Homo sapiens: one gene and its partner. The protein of the gene in region 2 purifies or fractionates together with the protein of the main gene of each other region. This does not show direct contact. Each region holds a gene or a part of one and is shown on either strand. Other genes may lie near its edges.

Region 1 (3,500 bases), on a different chromosome or scaffold from region 2:
ATCCATCAGTCTCTTCCCATACCTCTTTTAGTTGATCTTTGCTTCCCTGTGAACCAATTTTAAAAAATTGCTCAAAACAAAATATAATCTATCTGTACAGACTCAAAATATAAATTTGAGGAACTTGGCAGAAGAATCAAGATTTAAGTACTAATAACACAATAAAAATCCGCTGATACGAAGAAGTATCTTTATCTAAAAATGGTTTCATAAAGTCACAATCCTTACTGGGTGATTAACTTTAGGGTGATTTTCATGCTTTTTCTTCATTTCTTCAAATTTAGACTCTTCTTCTTTTCTCTTTTCTTCATTCAATGTTTTTAAATATTCTCTCCTTTCATGTTCCTTCATCATTTCATATTTTTTAAATTCTTCATGACGAGTCTTGTCATAGTGTTCCAGATCACTTGTTGCCTGAAATGCAATAATGCATTTAAGTTAAATAAAAACATTCACTTGAAAAATGTAAATAAAGCCATTCTTGAATATAGCATACTCTTGAACAGAAGTGGTACGGGAGGGCAAAAACATACTGGACTCCTCTTTTTAAATTCTACCATTTCATTTTAGTCAAGTTTTTTCTTCTTTTTTTTTGAGACGGAGTTTCACCCGTCACCCAGGCTGGAGTGCAGTGGCACGATTTCGGCTCACTGCCACCTCCACCTCTTGGTTCAAGCGATTATCCCACCTCAGCCTCCTGAGGCCTCTCGAGTAGCTGGGATTACAGGCGCTCACCACCACTCCCGGCTAATATTTGTATTTTAAGTACAGACAGGGTTTCACCATGTTGGCCAGGCTGGTCTTGAACTGCTGACCTTGGGTGATCCACCCTCCTTGGCCTCCCAAAGTGCTGGGATTACAGGCATGAGCCACCATGCCCAGCAATTTTAGTCATCATTATTACCAGAGAGTATTCAAAGAAACTAAAAGTTCAAAGCTAGCCCCAACTTTAGGAAACTCCTCATAAGCAAGTAATATGTAAGTTGATTTAAAAAAAAAAAAGAAGAAGAAAGGAACTATTATCAAATCTAGACAGTACAGAAAACTAAAATGGCTTCTAACCATTTAACTAATCTAATACCTGCCAGGTTAGAACTAGTTCCATTCACACATAATGTGAGAGGTCCACAAACTCTTATCTGGAATCTCTGAGGCCAGATGTGCTCAGAATTTTCTACCTTAAAGAAAGGGAATATGGTACATATGCCATATTATGGAATATCCCTGTAGCATCTGTAATCAAACAGACTAGTATTTCTTAAGCAAAATCTATAAATATTCACACTAAGTAGGTTAAATAAAAACTGTAAATGGTTTTACTATAATTGGTTCATTCAGGCCAGGTTTCAGTTTTTACAGCTTTTGGATTTAGGAATTGTGGATAAGGGATTTTAGACCTGTATGTACATATTAATATCTGTATTAATAAGGGTTAAGCTACCTTCCTTTAAAGAACTTCTACAGAATATATAAAAGTTATATTTCCATTTCATTGGGTTTACTTGTCAAATTACAAAACCTCAAAGGCACAATAAAGACAAAACTTTTTGGAATTATTCTCACCGCTTTGATTAGCATATCTAAATCTGTGGATTCAAACTTGTCAGGATTCAGGTGGTTTAGGTGATCAAATTGTTTTAGAAGAGCTTGGTGGTCCATGCCTATATCTGAAAGAAAATAAGAAAACTGTAAATGATCAATTTCTAGAAGCTAGAAACATAATAATTATACACAAGAAAAAGATTTCATATTTATTCCTATAGGATTTTATAAGGAAATCCAAAGTTTTAGAATAAAGGCTTATATTTACTTTATGAATACTGCGTATGTTATTCTAGTTAAAGGTAGTGTCCTTGAACCTAGAGTGGAATGCAATTTAACATGTATATTTTTAAAAATTCTCTCTCATTTTTTTTTTGAGACATGGTCCTGCTCTGTCACCCAAGCTGGAGAGCAATGGTGCAATCATGGATCACTGCATCCTTGACCTCCTGGGCTCAAGCAATCCTCCCACCTCAGCTTCCTAAGTAGCTAGGACAACAGGTGTGCACCACTACGCCTGGCTAATTTCTTTTTTTTTAATTTTTGGTAGAGACAGGGTCTCACTATATTGCCCAGGCTGGTCTTGAATTTCTGGCCTCAAGTGATCCTCCCAACTCAGCCTCTCAAAGTGCTGGGGTTACAGGCATGAGCCACCATGCCTGGCCTTATGCATATTTTAATGTTATATCTTAAATAACTAGTTGACTATCAGCACAATAACAAACCCTTTTTAATTATCTTAAAACTACTAAATATCCTGCTTTTAATAAATCTCTAATATAGTATCCTTATCAAAGGTTTAAGTAGAATTTCTAAAAATAATTGCTCTAAAGCTTACATGAAAGAATTCCTTGTATATTGCTCCAATGGATCACTTATGAAACAATAAAAATCTAATTTAGGTAAATTTCCTTTTAATTATGAAGTATTTTTAAGGAAATATCAATTTTTTTAACGTTTAAAAAACAAGTTACAATTTACTATAGTGAAATGGGTGAAGTGATGCTGGATTGTTTCAGTTGTATTACATAGTGGACACATGTAATGGATACACAGTGGATATACATACAAGACAGCTCACCAGAAACAACGCAATACGAGCCCTTCTAGAATTGAGCAAAATGGGTACATTGTTGAAGTTGTTGGAAATCAGCTCTCATTTAGGAAGAAGGAATATACAAATATGGAAGGGTGAAAGGCAAGAAAGAAATTGCTAGAGATGAATGGGAATTAGCACTATCTGTGTGAACTCAGCATTTCTAAAATATGTACATTTAACATGTATATGCATGTTTCACATGTATATGAATATGTATGTGTTTATATATGTGTCTATGTGTATAGACATGCATATTTCCTAGCTCCATGCAATTAAGGTGCCAAGAAAATACACTCCAGTAGCAAGGAGCGTACCTAGTGCCAGCTCTTGATCTAAAATATAGTTGCCCCTTAAGAAAAACCAGTGCTCCTCAGAGAAATGGCTCATTCCAGAGCTGGGGCAAGGTAGGTACAAGTTGATCCTGGAACATATTGTTATGCCAGAAAGTGAAGAACTGCTAAATCTGGTTCAACCAAGTTTTCACTGAATTCTAAGTATGGCACTGTACTAGCAGTTCTATTTATGAAGAAAATACTTGTTTTAAGACTTAGCCCTAAAAAAAATGACCAGACAGTGAAATATATAAAAAGACCCTTAACCTCACTCAAAATAAGAGAAATACATATTAAAACTGCACTGCTATACTATCTAACAGAATGGAAAACTCCTAAAGTTTGATGACACATGCCATTAGTAAGCCTGTGAGGAATTATTGCTGGCGGGTATGTGTATTGATACAACCTCTATGGAGGCAAATGTGGCAATATCTATCAAAATTACAAATATATATATATAATTTGATTTGGCAATTCCACTGTGGGGAAATTATCCTAAAGATAATCTTACAGGGATACACAGT
Region 2 (3,500 bases):
TAAACATGGTTTATAGAAACCTGTTTAATGCAGGTAAGAGCATCACAATACATTAAATGTGAAAGAGTTGTTATTTATTTTATTTTATTTATTTATTTTTTTTTTTGAGATGTAGTCTTGCTCTGTCACCCAGGCTGGAGTGCAGTGGCGTGATCTTGGCTCATTGCAAGCTCCACCTCCCGGGTTCATGCCATTCTTCTGCCTCAGCCTCCCGAGTAGCTGGGACTACAGGTGCTGGCCACCACGCCGGACTAATTTTTTGTATTTTTAGTAGAGACGGGGTTTCACCGTATTAGCCAGGATGGTCTCGATCTCCCGACCTCGTGATCTGCCGCCTTGGCCTCCCAAAGTGCTGGAATTACAGGCGTGAGCCACTGTGCCTGCCCAAGAGTTGTTAAGCTGTATATTTAATACTTATAAAAGTGTATGCATTAAAAAAATTAGAATGGATGCACTGAATTTTTACTTTAATAGTGGTTATCCTGCTCAATGAAATAAAAGAGAACACAAACAAATGCAAGAACATTCCATGCTCATGGATAGGAAGAATTAATATCATGAAAATGGCCATACTGCCCAAGGTGATTTATAGATTCAACGCCATCCCCATCAAGCTACCAATGACTTTCTTCACAGAATTGGAAAAAACTACTTTAAAGTTCATATGGAACCCAAAAAAAGCCCACATTGCCAAGACACTCCTAAGCCAAAAGAACAAAGCTGGAGGCATCACGTTACCTGACTTCAAACTATACTACAAGGCTACAGTAACCAAAACAGCATGGTACTGGTACCAAAATAGAGATATAGACCAATGGAACAGAACAGAGCCCTCAGAAATAATACCACACATCTACAACCATCTGATCTTTGACAAAGCTGACAAAAACAAGAAATAGGGAAAGGATTCCCTATTTAATAAATGGTGCTGGGAAAACTGGCTAGCCAAATGTAGAAAGCTGAAACTGGATTCCTTCCTTATACCTTATACAAAAATTAATTCAAGATGGATTAAAGACTTAAATGTTAGACCTAAAACCATAAAAACCCTAGAAGAAAACCTAGGCAATACCATTCAGGACATAGGCATGGGCAAGGACTTCATGACTAAAACACCAAAAGCAATGGCAACAAAAGCCAAACTTGACAAATGGGATCTAATTAAACTAGAGAGCTTCTGCACAGCAAAAGAAACTACCATCAGAGTGAACAGGCAACCTACAGAATAGGAGAAAATTTTTACAATCTATCCATCTGACAAAGGGCTAATTAATCCACAATCTACAAAGAACTTCAACAAATTTACAAGAAAAAATCAAACAACCCCATCAAAAAGTGGGCAAAGGATATGAACAGACACTTCTCAAAAGAAGACATTTATGCAGCCAAAAGACACATGAAAAAATGCTCATCATCACTGGCCATCAGAGAAATGCAAATCAAAACCACAATGAGATACCATCTCACACCAGTTAGAATGGTGATCATTAAAAAGTCAGTAAACAACAGGTGCTGGAGAGGATGTGGAGAAATAGGAACACTTTTACACTGTTGGTGGGACTATAAACTATTTCAACCATTGTGGAAGACAGTGTGGCAATTCCTCAAGGATTTAGAACTAGAAATACCATTTGACCCAGCCATCCCATCACTGGGTATATACCCAAAGTATTATAAATCATGCTACTATAAAGACACATGCACATGTATGTTTACTGCAGCACTATTCACAATAGCAAAGACTTGTAACCAACCCAAATGTCCAACAATGATAGACTGGATTAAGAAAATGTGGCACATATACACCATGGAATACCTTGCAGCCATAAAAAAGGATGAGTTCATGTCCTTTGTAGGGACATGGATGAAGCTGCAAACCATCATTCTGAGCAAACTATCACAAGGACAGAAAACCAAACACCACATGCTCTCATTCATAGTGGGAATTGAACAATGAGAACACTTGGGCACAGGATGGGGAACATCACACACTGGGACCTGTCATGAGGTTGGGGGCTGGGGGAGGGATAGCATTAGGAGATATACCTAATGTAAATGAGGTTAACGGGTCAACGGGTGCAGCACACCAACATGGCACATGTATACATATGTAACAAACCTGCACGTTGTGCACATGTACCCTAGAACTTAAAGTATAACAAAAAAAGGGAAAAAATAAAAAATAAAAATAAATAAATATATAAAACTGTTGGGGGCATTAGTCACATGAACAGCTGTCAAAAAAAATAGTGGTTATCTCTGGGAGTGATGTTTCCAACCTTCTTCTTACTTATCTATATATTTTAATGTTGGCATACAGAGACTATCTAAAAAAAAAAAAAAAAAAAAAAAAGAAGCAGTTGCTTCAAAACTTACACCAGTGAGAAATTCCACAGAAAAGCTGAGAACATTCCTAACAAGGGTCCCTTTATGTATGCACTTAACATAACATATGGAAATTATTTAGTTTTCTGCCTCACTAAAGTGGCCTCCCACAAAATAGGAACTATAGTCTCACTCTCAATTTCTTTTTTTATTCCTAATGCCTATTACACTGTGTGGCATAATAGCAGGCTGAGGGCCAGGCACGGTGGCTCATGCCTGTAATTCCAGCACTTTGGAAGGCCGAGGCAGGTGGATGGCCTGAGGTTGGGAGTTCAAGACCAGCCTGACCAACATGGAGAAAGCTTGTCTCTACTAAAAGTACAAAATTAGCCAGGCATGGTGGCACATGCCTGTAATCCCAGCTACCTGGGAGACTGAGGCAGGAGAATCTCTTGAACCCAGGAGGCAGAGGTTGCGGTGAGCCGAGATAGTACCATTGCATTCCAGCCTGGGCAACAAGAGCGAAACTCCGTCTCAAAAAAAAAAAAATAGCAGGCTGAAGGAATAACTTTTCACAGAGAACCCAAAAGACTCTCTAAGAAACCAAAGGTTTAGATTCTGTACAGAAAACCCAGAGAATCACCTAGGAAATAGCCAAGACTAGCCACAGAATCTCTCACTAAATACAAATTTCATTTAACCAGCTCAGATAAAAAAAATCCTGGTATTTTCCTGCACCTCCCCCTTCTGTCTCCCAATCCATTAACAAATCCAACTGAAGAAATCCTCTTGTTTCTACATGTAAAACGTGTTCTCACAACCATTCTCACCATTTCACTGCCACCATGCTTGTCCAAGCCAGAAGTCATCTCTTGCCCATACATAGACCAGCAATAGTCCCCTGGTTGGTCTCCAGGCTTCCACTCTCCTGCACTGTAGCCTTCACACAACAGAGTGACCTTTAAAAAGGCAAATCTAATCATGCTACTCTAAGCTCAAAGCCTCCAATAACTTCCCATCACATGTAGAATAAAAGCCAAAGTGTTTCCTATGGCTCACAGCCTTTCATGATGTGCCCTAGACTTTGAACTCCTCTCCTACCCTCTGGTTCCCAGGTCTCCAGCCACACTGGCCTGCTGACTATTCCTGAAACTTGTCAAGCTCGTGCCTGCCTC

Evidence for each region. The genes of interacting proteins can lie anywhere in the genome.
Region 1: the proteins of MANBA (region 2) and NUCB2 fractionate together in Homo sapiens (co-fractionation; one large-scale study listed by BioGRID). This does not show direct contact.

Annotation. Positions count from the first base shown.
Region 1 is NC_000011.10:17,307,739-17,311,238, reverse strand, and holds part of NUCB2 (nucleobindin-2 isoform 1 preproprotein), read right to left. Parts: intron 1,668-3,500; coding exon 1,564-1,667; intron 415-1,563; coding exon 229-414; intron 47-228; coding exon 1-46. UniProt on the Homo sapiens protein: Calcium-binding protein which may have a role in calcium homeostasis. Acts as a non-receptor guanine nucleotide exchange factor which binds to and activates guanine nucleotide-binding protein (G-protein) alpha subunit GNAI3.
Region 2 is NC_000004.12:102,754,469-102,757,968, forward strand, and holds part of MANBA (beta-mannosidase precursor), read right to left. Parts: intron 1-3,500.